Linked DNA regions of Homo sapiens. The protein of the gene in region 1 interacts with the protein of each later gene in a pairwise test. Each region holds a gene or a part of one and is shown in the gene's direction. Other genes may lie near its edges.

What was found. The genes of interacting proteins can lie anywhere in the genome.
Region 2: the proteins of PGBD1 (region 1) and ZNF496 interact in binary tests that used the Homo sapiens proteins (3 or more experiments, as listed by UniProt).

The regions. Positions count from the first base shown.
Region 1 is NC_000006.12:28,297,636-28,303,973, forward strand, and holds the end of PGBD1 (piggyBac transposable element-derived protein 1), read left to right. Parts: intron 1-259; coding exon 260-356; intron 357-3,088; coding exon 3,089-4,649; 3' UTR 4,650-4,914; downstream 4,915-6,338.
Region 2 is NC_000001.11:247,320,917-247,329,081, reverse strand, and holds part of ZNF496 (zinc finger protein 496), read left to right. Parts: intron 1-215; coding exon 216-399; intron 400-5,851; coding exon 5,852-5,928; intron 5,929-8,165. UniProt on the Homo sapiens protein: DNA-binding transcription factor that can both act as an activator and a repressor.

The DNA.
Region 1 (6,338 bases):
GAAATGTGCTCTGCCCTGTTGGGCCCTCTCTGCAGCTGGGCTTTGGTGCCTTAATTAACCTTTCTTATCATTTTCCCATACCATGCCACATTTTGTAGGATTGCTGAAACTGTGCACCCTTGAAACACCAATATGATTTGTTTTTTGTTTGATTTGGAACATCTATTCCCTACCCTGGAAGTTTTTTTTTTTTTTTTTTTTTTTTTTTTTCAAAATTCACATAACAGATGACATTTAAATCATTAATGTTATATTTTAGCTGAAGAAATTGTAACTAAAGATAGATTGTTTAAAGCAAAGCAAGAAACTTCTGAAGAAATGGAACAAAGTGGAGAAGCCTCAGGAAAGCCCAACAGGTGAGTGTCCATGGTCCTCAGTGAATCAAATCCTGCAGATATAAGAAATTGGAATGGAATCAGAGAAACCAATTGGTCAAAGGCCTGCTTCTCTGGAATAAGATATGACAACTGCCACTCACTTCTGTGATCATAGGAGGTCCATGCCAAGAAAGTGACCTATTCAAAATTTTCAATATGCAATAAATATACAAAACCTTCAGTTGATACTCAGTTTCCTCCAAGAAGCCTATCCTGATCCAGTCTGTCCTGCTTGATTACCCTTCCCTGGGCTCCCTTACATTTTTATGGAGCTGTGGAGAAGCTAGAAGGCAGATAATTTAACAAGAATGAGGGCTACAGATGAAGCTGCCATGACAGTTAAGAAAGAAATGTCAGAGTGGAAGAGGACAAGCAGGGTACAGGTTGAGCATTCCAAATCTGAAATGTTCCAAAATCTGAGCTGTTTGAGCACCAGCATGATGCTCAAAGGAAATGCTCATTGGAGCATTTTGGATTTTGGATCTTTGGTTAGGGATGCCCAACTGGTATAATGCAAATATTCCAAAATCTGAAAAAAATCCAAAATTCAAAAATCTTCTGACCCCAAGCATTTCAGATAAGGGAAAATTAACCTGTATTTTCAACCGCCATTGGGAGACCTGAACAAGGTATAGGTCAAAAGGAAAGTTAGCTGATGAAGTAGAAATGAATGACAGTGGTGTGTGCTTCATAAGTGCTGGTTGTGGGAATGAATGAACTTGTAACAGATACTCCTATGCAAAGCAAGAAACTTCTGAAGAAATGGAACAAGGTGGAGAAGCCTCGGGAATGCCCAACATTCCGAGGCTTCTCAGGATTGCAGAAAGAGAGGGAACAAATCACAAGCAGAGGGTTGGCTTCTGGTGAGGCCATTTGGTCCTCAGAGACTTGAGAAAAGAGAGAGTAAGCAAGGTGGGCTACTTGGCCAAAGAGCTGAGAAGGGGGTGTGAATTTTCCTTATTGACATTTGTTTAACTTAGAGAAACTGGGAGCTAAATCTCAGCTAAAGTAGAAATGTCTTAAAGCTCAAGAGGAGAAGTGAAATTTTGCATTAAGATTAGTGAAGACTGAGCCAGGCTCCACTAAAGGAAGAGATATGATGTTCAGTAACTTAGAGCAGAGTTATGCAACTGGAGAATAGGAATCTGCTATTGTGCCTGTAGGTACATTTAGTATCAGGCAACTAACAGGTAATTCATAGTGCCTATAATAAAGATATTCATATAACAAAAAGTGTGAAGGTAGGCTATTTCAGGTTAGGTGCAATAGCTTAACCATGGTATCAAAGGTCTAGCCCCCTGCCCTCCTTCTAGTCCCCCTCCCTCACCCCCACCCCACTTTCTTAGCTCACTCTTTTTTCCCATTTCTCACTCCCATTTCCTTCCCTCACAATATTGGGCTTAATGCACTGTGGTTCTTAGAGTTTAGATGTCAACAGTAGAAAGACTCAGTGTGATCAAGGAATGTCACTGAAGTTATGGATGTCAGGGAACTTTAAGATGGATGTGTTGAATACATGCAGACACTGAAGACACCCTGGATGATAAACACTTTACATAAAGAAATGTATGTAGTGTAAATTATATTAAAATATACTCTTCATGCTTCTTAAATGTCTTTGAAAACTTGACTAGTTTACCAACAGAACACTAATAAATTAAATGCACATGTCTAAAAATTAAAAACTTTGTGTAAAATAATACTTTTCAGTTGGGTGCAGTGGCTCATGCTTGTAATCCCAGCACTTTGGGAGGCCGAGGTGAGTGGATCACGAGGTCAGGAGTTTGAGACCAGCCTGGCCAACACAGTGAAACCCTGTCTCTACTAAAAATACAAAAATTAGTTGGGCATGGTGGCACGTGCCTGTAGTCCCAGCTACTCGGGAGGCTGAGGCAGGAGAATTGCTTGAACCTGGGAGGCAGAGGTGGCAGTGAGCTGAAATCATGCCACTGCACTCCAGCCTGGGTGACAGAGCTAGACTCTGTCTCAAAAAAAAAAAAAAACAAAACAAAACTTTTCATCTTTGTAACTTTAGCTTACTTCCTTGTAAACCCCATAAAAATCAGTCCAAGTGCAATGAGTTGAGTTTCATTTGTTTTTCCCCAGAGTAGTATGTCCATCAGATGAATGTAGAACTAGCAGGGGCTAAGTCCTTCCATGTTCAGAAATTCTGTGAGAGATGTCAGAAGACCTGGTAAATAATAACCTTTTTTTCTTGTTCAGATTCAGAACCAATTGACAGGGATGCAGGAGTAAAATAGATGGTTCTGGAAACCTCAGTTTCTTACTGACAGAAGTTAGACTGGATAAAAACGGCTTAAAGGCAGAGCTAAATAGGCTTGTACTGGCAGAGGAGGAGTGTAGCAGATGTCCCTCTGCATAGGTCTTCTCAATGCAACTTGGGGCACCAAGGAGCATGGGATGTCTGCATCCTGCTCCTAAAGAGGACAGAGGGAGGAGTGTACCAAGGATACTCAGTTATTTCTCCCAGGCTCAACAGTTAGTTCCATCCTGAGGAGTGAGTGAGAGGTGGAGAGTGGCTAGAAATGTTTAATCTAGCCAAAGTCCTCCCCATGGAAACTTAAGAGAAATAAGTAAGTATCCCCCCACACCCACCCCAAGCCCCAAAAGATTTAAGCTTCAGCAGATTTATCATGTGTGAGAGAATATGATTGAGGATTTTTATAACATGTTCTTTTTTTCTTTCCCAGAGAGTGTGCACCCCAGATTCCTTGTAGTACTCCTATTGCTACTGAAAGGACAGTTGCACATTTGAACACTCTGAAGGACCGTCACCCAGGTGATTTGTGGGCCCGCATGCACATCTCATCCCTGGAATATGCTGCAGGAGACATTACCCGAAAAGGGAGAAAAAAAGACAAAGCTCGAGTGAGTGAACTGCTCCAAGGCCTCTCATTCTCTGGTGACTCAGATGTGGAAAAAGATAATGAGCCTGAGATCCAGCCTGCTCAAAAGAAGTTAAAGGTATCATGTTTCCCAGAAAAGAGTTGGACCAAAAGAGACATTAAACCCAATTTTCCAAGCTGGTCAGCACTGGATTCTGGACTTTTGAATCTCAAGAGCGAAAAGTTGAACCCAGTAGAGCTTTTTGAATTATTTTTTGATGATGAAACATTCAACTTAATTGTCAATGAAACCAATAATTATGCTTCTCAGAAAAATGTCAGCTTGGAAGTCACAGTTCAGGAAATGAGGTGTGTGTTTGGTGTCTTACTTTTGAGTGGATTTATGAGGCATCCTAGAAGGGAAATGTATTGGGAAGTCTCTGACACCGATCAGAACCTGGTTAGAGATGCAATCAGAAGGGACAGATTTGAATTGATTTTCTCAAACCTGCACTTTGCAGATAATGGCCACCTAGATCAAAAAGATAAGTTTACAAAGTTGAGACCTCTCATAAAACAAATGAATAAAAATTTCCTCTTGTATGCTCCCCTGGAAGAATACTATTGCTTTGATAAGTCAATGTGTGAATGCTTTGATAGTGACCAATTCCTGAATGGAAAGCCTATTAGAATTGGCTATAAAATTTGGTGTGGTACAACCACACAGGGTTATCTGGTTTGGTTTGAACCCTATCAAGAAGAATCAACTATGAAGGTAGATGAGGATCCTGATCTTGGGTTAGGTGGAAATCTAGTGATGAACTTCGCTGATGTTCTTTTAGAGAGAGGTCAGTATCCCTATCACCTGTGTTTTGATAGCTTCTTTACAAGTGTCAAATTGTTGTCAGCCTTGAAAAAGAAGGGGGTGAGGGCAACAGGAACAATTCGTGAGAACAGGACCGAAAAATGTCCCCTTATGAATGTAGAACATATGAAAAAAATGAAGAGAGGGTATTTTGATTTCCGAATAGAAGAAAACAATGAGATAATTTTGTGTCGTTGGTATGGGGATGGCATTATCAGTCTGTGCTCCAATGCTGTGGGCATAGAACCAGTCAATGAGGTAAGCTGTTGTGATGCTGATAACGAAGAAATCCCTCAGATAAGTCAACCATCCATAGTAAAAGTGTATGATGAATGCAAGGAAGGTGTAGCTAAAATGGATCAAATTATTTCGAAATACAGGGTGAGGATAAGAAGCAAGAAATGGTACTCAATTTTGGTGAGCTACATGATTGATGTAGCCATGAACAATGCATGGCAACTACACAGAGCCTGTAACCCAGGTGCTTCTCTAGACCCCTTGGATTTTCGGAGATTTGTTGCACATTTCTACTTGGAACACAATGCTCATCTGTCAGATTAGGGTACATAAAATGGACATAGTGCAGACATTAATAAGACATAGAAAAATAATAATTATACATGCTGTTGTACCCTCCCAAAGTAAATCTGATATATGTAATGAAGTTATTAAATAATACTTTTAAAAATCAGACATTTATATAGAGTTTCAAAGACTATTGTAACAAGTAATGTTAAAAATTGTCTGTGAGAATGTTGAACTGTAGTACCTTTCTCTATGTCAAGTTTTGTGTCAGACATGGGAAATCATGTATTTGTTCAATTGACTACTTTGTGCACTTATTTATTTATTTTTTGAGACACAGTCTCGCTCTGCGGCCAAGCTGGAGTGCAGTGGCACGATCTTGGCTCACTGCAACCTCTGACACCCTAGTTCAAGCGATTCTCCTGCCTCAGCCTCCCAAGTAGCTGGGATTACAGGCACGTGCTGCCATGCCTAGCTAATTTTTGTATTTTTAGTAGAGACAGGGTTTCACCATGTTGGCCAGGATGGTCTCGATCTGACCTCGTGATCTGCCTGCCTTGGCCTCCCAAAGTGCTGGGATTACAGGCGTGAGCCACCATGCCCAGCTATTTTGTGCATTTAAAGAAGGAAATCCTACCTCTTAAAAAAAATTATCTGGAGAATGCCATTTTTAAGATGCAAGCAATGTTACAGAAACCATAGAATGGTGCTGACTCAATAGTTCAAACTAGTGACACAGCCTATGAAGTAAGAATGATCTAAACAAAACATAGGTGGTAAGAGACTAAAAACCTTAGCATTGGTGTAAAACTGGATCGGATTGTGTGTAAGTGAGAAGGGTCAGGCATGGATATTGAAGGAGAGTGCTATAAAGGAAAAACCAGAGGTGAAGCAGTGCCTTTGAATATTGAAATGATAGGTGTATCCTATGGTGACTGTGTGAGTTGGCAGCAGAAGTCAGAAGAGTAAAGAAAACCAAGGAAACAGGCAAATCAGGGTAACAAGTAACCAGGAGAGTGAAGGAAAAGATAGGCATAAAGTCAACATAAAGGCCAAGTTGAAATCACCTGAGGAGATGTCTAGGCTTAAGGCCATCAGTGATAGGTAACTGAAGGAGAAACACTTGGAAAAGTGAATGATACGGACTGTGACTCCTTAGTGTTGAAGTCTAGCATTGGTGGATTAGTCTGGAGGGTAGAGAAGACAGGCTCCACCTCATTTCTGTGAGTTGTAGCCACAACAGCTCTTTGCCTTTCTTTCATATCCTAATATTTACAGTCCCTTTCCTGGCTGGAAGGCAGGTGGTCAGGTTTGAATTCTTTCAACAGGTATGTTTCTTATGTGGATGACTGGTGAAAGTGTAAGCTGCGTGTAATGTAGTCACAGATTCACCTATTCCATGCAAGATGTTCAAAGAAAATATAAGTTCATTATTTCCTGTAATTGATCTGATATTCTTTGTGAAATACATCACCAGCGTGGGTTGGTTTCACTTTTAAATGATGAAGTGTCTGGTGTCTAAGTATCTCCCCACAAAAGGGTATTAATAGAATGCAGGTTTTAGTTAAATGATGAGTGGTGCAGATAGTAATTGCTAATATAGGCAGGAAATAGTTACAGAATAACTTCGTATTTCACTTTCATGTCTGCCCTGATGTTTAGAGCCCTCTAGCCATCCCCACTTGGAAGTTATCAAAGGCTGCACTTTATATCTCCCACATTCTA
Region 2 (8,165 bases), on another chromosome or scaffold:
TTACTTTGGTTAGGTCCAGACTAGAGTTTCCTAAGAAAGCCAGTTTTACTCCCTGAAGGCTCTAATTTGGGCATGATAGTGTCGTGCCCCTTTACAGCCCAGTCCAAGGCCTAAGTTGAGCCTTTGATGGTCAGCTGTGGAGTGGATGGTCACCAGGCCCAGGGAGAGATGGGACCTCTTCCCCTAGCCCTGAAAAGCTGTCTCTGGGATTGCAGCTCAAGCACTGTGAAGACCCTGTGGTGATTGATGATGGGGACAGCCCTCTGGACCAGGAGCAGGAGCAGCTGCCGGTAGAGCCCCACAGCGACCTTGCAAAGAACCAGGATGCCCAGCCCATAACCCTGGCACAGTGCCTGGGGCTCCCAAGCAGACCACCAAGCCAGCTCAGCGGGGACCCAGGTATGCAGCCCAGGGGAGTGTAGCAGGGGTGATCTGGGGAAGTGCACACCCCATACTGTGCACTGGGTGTGGTTTTTGTTAAGCTGATGGCTTTTACATCAGCAGTGTTCTCGTGTCCCCGAGGTGCTGTGAGCTGTTGTCAGGGTCTGAGTCCCTTCCTAGAGCAATTAAATGAGAACCTCATCAGGATGTTTGTCCTCTTCATGGTTCTAGAGCCTCTCAGAGCTAACGCTTCTGTAGGTGGGTGTCACTGAGGTGGTGCCCTCTCATCTCTTCGAGGGTGCATCTCTGCAGGATTTGTCAGTTTGATGACAGCTGGGGACTGCCAGTGTACAGCTGGGGCCTGCTGCATGACTGGAGCATGGCCATTTCTTGTCTCTTGGAACCTCTGTTTCCTTGGCTAAACAACTCCTGTTTACAGGAGTATTGTGATGCTGCGAAGAGATGTAGAAATACTTAGGAGGACACAGGGTGGTGTCTAGTGTGTGGGGCCAGAACATCAGCTACACATAGTTTGAGTATGTATATGAAGTACATGGTAGCTACAGGAAAGTAGTTTTTTCATCAGATAAACTTAGATTTGAATCTTCTGGTTATGACCTGAGGCATGTTTCTAAACTCTGAAAGCCTCAGTTTCTTCCTCTGTCCAGCAGAGATAGTAATTACCTTTTTTGGGGTTTTTGGACAATTAAATGAGATACAACCTACAAAAGGTTGAACACAAGGCCTGAGGTGCCCAAAACTTTAAGTACATATCATGGGAAACCAGCGCCCTTGGGTTGAAGGAAGTCTGGCCCGTGGGTTCCTCTGGGTGGACTTGCCACGGTGCTTTATATGTACAGTGGAAAGAGAGTGTCTGGGGGGCCAGGGGGGCTTTCTTATGACTCTGGGTGGACTTGCCATAGTGCTCTATAGGTACAATGGAAAGAGAGTGTCTGGGGGGCCAGGGGAGACTTTCTTATGACTTGCAGAAGTTGTGTTTGGCATTATGATAAGCTTTTCAGTAATAAAACCAAAATGCCTATTAAATTTCTGTGTGTGGAAAAACTATATTGACTTCTGTACAAATCACATAAACTCTTCAGCCTTTTCTTGCTTATAAATCAAGTTTGGTGTGTTGTTGGCTGCCATAACAAAGTACCACAGACTGGATGCCTTATGTAACAGAAATGTATTCTCTCACAGTTCAGGAGGCTGGAAGTCTGAAGTCAATGTATCAGCAGCCTTGGGTTCTTCTGAAGCCTCTCTCCTTGGCTTGTAGACATGCCTAATGTTAACACTAAGAGAAGTTTGCAGATAGACATTTAGAAGGAGCTAGGGGTTGGGCGCGGTGGCTCACGCCTGTAATCCCAGCACTTTGGGAGGCCAAGGCGGGCGGATCACCTGAGGTCAGGAGTTCGAGACCAGCCTGGCCAAGATGGTGAAACCCCATCGCTACTAAAAATACAAAATTAGTTGTGTGTGGTGGTGGGTGCCTATAATTCCAGCTTTTCGGGAGGCTGAGGCAGGAGAATCACTTGAACCTGGGAGGCGGAGATTGCAGTGAGCTGAGATCACGCCATTGCATTCCAGCCTGGGTAAAAACAGTAAAACTCCATCTCAAAACAAAACAAAAAAAAAGGAGCTAGGAGGGGAAGTCTCTTATGCCACTGGCTCTCTTTGGGACCCGTAAAAACCCATGAATATCCGGCCCTGAAAGCTGACAACAAGCTTTGTGCCAGGACTCTTGATGACGGGCGGTTTTCTTTCAGGGAAAGGAAGAGGAAGATGTTTACACTAAGAGAAGTTTGCAGAGCAGGTGTAACAGACACCTTCTCTCTCTGGGTCTCTTTATGTGGTCTTTCCTTTGTGTGTGTCTGTGTCTTAATCTCCTCTTCTTATAAGTACACCAGTCCTATTGGATTAGGGCCCACCCATATGACCTGATTTTATCTTAATGACCTCTTTAAAGACCCTATCTCCAAATACTCAGTCGCATTCTGAGGTACCTAAGGGTTAGGGCTTCAACATAGGAATTTGAGAGGGCCATAACTTAGCCTGTAACAACAGGTATAAGGGAAGCAGCCAGTCGCCCACATAATGCACGTGCAAGTAGCTTGGGTTATGCAGGAAGTGGGGGGCTGTGAGAGGCCTTGTAGTGGGGTCTGGGAAGGCATGCAGGTGGAGAGGAAGAAGTTTCAGGAACTACAGTAGCCTGTGCAGTTGCTTCTTGATAAAGTTCTGAGATAAGCCAGCAACCACAGATGGGCTTTAGGAAAACAGGGCCAGCTCTCCCATTTCCATGAGCAATAATCAATAGGCAAAGTAGGTATGATGAGAGTTAGCAATCAGGAAAACCTTAACTATTGGGACAGTTCATCATTGGAATGCACTACCTATCAGAGCTGTATAGTTCCTCATCTTGAAGATCTTCCCCAAAAGCTAGATTTTGTGTAGGGTCTGCAACTCTCCGAAGTGATTCTTGAAAGGGTCCATGTATTCATTTATCGGGGCCAAAAGTAGGGTGGGACTACATATTCATATATATATATATATATGTGTGTATATATATATATGTATGTATATATATGTGTGTGTATATATATGTGTGTGTATATATGTGTGTGTGTGTGTATATATGTGTGTGTGTGTGTATATATATATATGCGTGTGTATATATATATATACATATGTCTCAGCCTCCCAAAGTGTTGGGATTACAGGCGTGAGCCACTGTGCCCGGCCAACATGATTTTAAACTTGGAGAAGGGAGGGCTAGGGATGGGAAGGAGTTAGCCAGGTTACCCAGTTAGGGGGCATCTCCATTCATATATATATGAATATCTGGGATAGCTACATATCCCAGAAGGTGGCAGGTGTGAGGAAGCAGAACTAAAACACCACCTCCTAGCCAGGCATGGTGGCTCATGCCTATAGTTCCAGCTACTCAGGGGGCTGAAGCAGGAGGATTGCTTGAGGCCAGGAGTTTGAGACCAGCCTGGGCAACATAGCGAGAACCCACCTCTAAAAAATAAAACACCCCCTCTGGGAGACATCGGTCAAAGAGTACAAAGTTTCCGTTAGGTAAGATGAATAAATTCTGGAGATCTATGGTACAGCATGGTGAGGTTGATGAAAAATAATGCATCTTATACTTGAAAATTGCTAAGAAAGTAAATAAGAAATGTTCTCGTCACAAAAATATATGAGGTATAGATTTGTTAATTAGCTTAATTTAATCATTTCACAATGTATAGTTATCACATTGTACAGTTTTCGTATACAAAATACATACAATTTTTGTCAATTATAGCTTAATAAAACTGGGAGGTAAAAGTAAGTTAAATAAAGATGAAGATAGAAACTTAAAATGGAACATACACACAGAAAAATACCACCTCCTCAAATCTACGCCCATCCAGCCTGAGCTTCCCCTTCAGACACAGTGAAGAGGCTGCCTTCCACTGAGACCCCTAGAATGGCACTGCCATCTGTGTGGGCTCCTGGCCCCGTCCTTTGTTCCACATAGCCACTCCTGCAGCTGCTGTTTCCTGCAGGCTTTGTATTCCAGGTCTGAAAGGCCAGGGACACTGGCCTCTGGGGTTTGCTTTGATAATGACTTAACATGTGACCTGGGGTTAACCAGTAGACTATAGCACAGCTCTCCAAGTCTTAATCTGAGAAAGGAGTACCTTTTGAAACAGAGCTCATTTTTACATGGCTGCACTGTTGGCAGGGGATGTGGCTCATGGCAGAAGCCTGAACAAAGGGTAGTTTCCAATTCCAGGAGAGAAGAGTGGCAGAGTCCCTGGTAGCCCAAAATAAGGCTGGTGAGATGGTCCCAAAGCCACACTTTACATTTTGTATGAGGGTCTTTAGGACACTGTGTCAAATGCTCTTTCAGGAGTACCTACAGTGGTAACAGTTTTTCTTTTTTGTTTAATTTCTGTCTTCAAATTGACAAAAAAAAATTGTATGTATTTACAGTGTACAGTGTAATGTTTTGATATCTATACACATTGTGAAATGATTAAACCAAGCTACTTAGCTGGGCATGGTGGCACACCTGTAGTCCCAGCTACTCAGGAGGCTGAGGTGGGAGGATCCCTTGAGCTCAGGAGTTCTGTTCCAGCCTAGGCAACCTAGTGAGACCAGTCTCTTAAAAAAAAAAAAAGTCAAGCTAATTAATATAATGCATTACCTCATATACCTATCCTTTTTCTGTGTGTGGTGAAAATACTTCAGATCTACCCTCTTAGCAATTTTCAAGTACACAGTACGTTGTTACTGCCTATAGTCACCATGTTGTGCAATAGGACTCCTGAGTTTACTCCTCTCATGTCACTGAAATTTTGTACACTTTGACCAATGTCTCCCCAGTCCCCTCATTCCCTAGCCTCTGGTAACCAGCATTCTGATCTCTGCTTCTATGAGTTCAACTTTTTTAGAGTCCACATTTAAGTGAGAACATGCAGTATTTCTTTTTGTGTCTGGCTTATTGCTCGTAGCATGTCTTTCAGGTTCATTCATGTCGTCAAAAATGACAGGATTTTCCTTCTTTTTTTATGGAGTTCCACAGTAATTCTGATTGCCAACAGCCCTTACTTTTTTTTTTTTTTTTTTTCATTTGAGACAGAGCCATGTTCTGTCACCCAGGCTGGAGTGCAGTGGTGCAGCTGTGGCTCACTGCAGCCTCCATCTCTCAGGCTCAAGCAATCCTTCTGTTTCAGCTTCCCAGTTTTTTTATTTTTAATAGAGATGCGGTCTCCCTATGTTGCCCAGACTGGTCTTGAACTCCTGAGCTTAAGCAATCCTCCCACTTTGGCTTCCCAAAGAGCTAGGATTACAGGCATGAGCCACCACATCCAGACCCTAAGAGTCCTTATAGATTCCTCAACTCTACGGCTTTTTCTTTTTCTTCTTCTTTTTTTTTTTCTTTTTCTTTTTAAGAAACAAATACTCTGTGTTGTCCCTGCTGGTCTGGAACTCCTGGGCTCAAGTGATTCTCCCACCTCAGTCCCCAAAATAAGAATAGCTGAGATTACAGGCATGTACCACCACACACGGCTGAACTCCATAGAGTTTTAACCTTTATTTTCCCATAGTTTGGATAACAATGCTGAGGTCCGGGGACCTACCCGAGGTGAAAGAGTTCATTTAATTGACCGTGCTATCATGAACCCAGGCACACTCTGTTACAGCCCCCCTTGTTATATCTGGAAACAAAGTCGCAGCAATCTTTGTGGTTTACAGAGTACTTTTCATGTGCGTCATTTTGTAATCCTCATTTTACAGTTAAGAACAGAGACTGGGGTTTTATGAAAAGCACCATGAAACAGTTCCCTGTTGGTGCCTCTCTTGTGATTTTCTTTGCTACCAAAATGGAAATGAAGAGCCGCAGGAAGCTCAGAAGGTATCAGCACCAGGCCTGGCCCTGGCCCACTTTAGGACACCATTTTCTGATCTCTTTCAGTTCTGCAAGATGCTTTCCTTCTTCAGGAAGAGAATGTGCGGGACACACAGCAGGTGACCACCCTCCAGCTACCCCCGGTGAGTGGTTTCTACAGGAGTCCTTGAAAATCCCCTGTTTGCCTCTGTAGGCTACAGGGCAGCTTTCTTAGGACCCCAGCCAGCTTTCTGACTGCCACACAGGATGTTCAGTCCCAGCCCAGAAAAGCTAAAATAGGCAGAGCGTGAGCTTAAGAGACGCCCCATTTCTCCTCCTTCCCTGTGGTCCCAGCCGCCCACTGGGTCTACTGTCATCAGGCCACCTTCAGGAAGCTTTGTGCAGACGATAGCAGGAAACAAAGGCCCATGAGTCCCCATTGATGGGCCTCTCAGCATGTCTAAGTTCCCCTCTTGTGAAAAAGGAGATCTCTCTGCTCTTTTATTTTACAGAGAATTTTTCAATTTAATAATCATCGCAGCAATGGTTATATTTTAGAAATGTTAGGAAGTGGAGGGAAGAAAGCACAGATAATTTCAGTCCTGTCACAGATCTACGTGGTGAGTCATTCCAGAATTTCCTCGAATGTTCTCGTTCGTGTTTTTGTGTAAGACTTGCTTACTCGGGTGCTCTGAGGAGTCAGAGTCAGGGCTGGGGGCTGGTCCAGCAGGTGATCTTACTCGCCTCTCTCTAGCCCAGTTGCTGTCTTTGGCCATGTTTTCTGGCCATATCTCCTTCACTTTCCCTCCTAACACTTTCCACTGGCTGGCACAAGATTTAGTTATGACAGCATCATCCCCTCCCATGGGAACAGGATGTGTGGCTCCTGCTTTTGTTTAGTTGCTCCTTACCCAACAGAAAACTGTGAAAAACAGTAGACACTCTTATTACCATGTCTCAGCAGAATGTCGGAAGCTGAGCAGTTTGCTTTCTGCACAGTTCATTTGACATGACTTTATTTTATTTTTATTTTTAGAGACAGGGTCTTGCCTTGTCACCCAGGCTTCAATGCAGTGGCACAGTCGTAGTTCACTGCAGCCTCAAACTCCTGAGCTCAAGCCATCCTCCCACCTCGGTCTCCTGAGCAGCTGGGACTACAGGTGCATGCCACTACACCCAGCTAAGTTTTGTATTTCCTTGTAGAGACAGGGTCTCGCCATGTTGCCCAGGCTGGTCTCAAACTCCTGACCTCAAGTGATCCTCCTGTCTCAGCCTCCCAAAGTGCTGGGATTACAGGCATGAGCCACTGTGCCCAGCCAACATGACTTTAAACTTGGAGAAGGGAGGGCTAGGGATGGGAAGGAGTTAGCCAGGTTACCCAGTTAGGGGGCATCTCCATAACTTGCTTTTGCCCCACCAGAAATGTGGCACACGCCTGTTTACCCTGATGCTCAACACATACATGTCAGCATCTGCTGTGTACTGTGACCATTTCCAAACACAAAGGAGGTAAAACCAGTATTTCTTATTAAAATTTGGACATTTAACCAGTATAACACATAAGGGGATGCTGTTAATCCAGTACCTAATGAGGTTTGGTCTTCATCTTTCAATTCCTGCAGTCCCTAGTAAATGCCATAGCGAGCACAGTACAGAGATTTTGATAAGTCAGTACTGTTGTATTACTCTGATAGTTTCTTCCCAGTGATAGTTTCTTCCCAGTGCACTAAAAGTCACCATCATGAAGATGTTGTTTATAAGTGTTTTTTAATTTCTGTTTTTAATTGTGGTAATATACACATAGCGTAAAATTTTCCATCTTAACTGTCTTTAAGTGTGCGGTTCAGTGGTGTTAAGTATATTTACATTGTTGTACACCCAATCTGTAGAACTTTTTCATCTTCCCAAACTGAAATTCTCTATACGTTAAATAATAACTCCTCATTTACCCTTTCCCTTAGCCCCTGGCAACCTCCATGCTACTTTTAGTCCCTATTAATTTGACTATAAATACCTCATATAATTGGAATTATGCACTATTTGCCTTTTTGTGACTGGCTTATTTCATTCAGCATAATGTCCTCAAGGTTCATCTATGTTGCAGTATGTGTCGGAATTCCCTTCCGTGTTTTTTTTTCCCCCGAGATGGAGTCTTGCTCTGTCGCCCAGGCTGAAGTGTAGTGGCTCGATCTCGGCTCATCGCAACCTCCGCATCCCGGGTTCAAGCAATTCTCCTGCCTCAGCCTCCCGAGTAGCTGGGATTACAGGCACCCGCAACCACGCTTGGCTAATTTTTGTATTCTTAGTAGAGACGGGGTTTCACCATGTTAGTCAGGCTCTTGAACTCGAACTCTTGACCTCGTGATCCACCTGCCTCGGCCTCCCAAAGTGCTGGGATTAC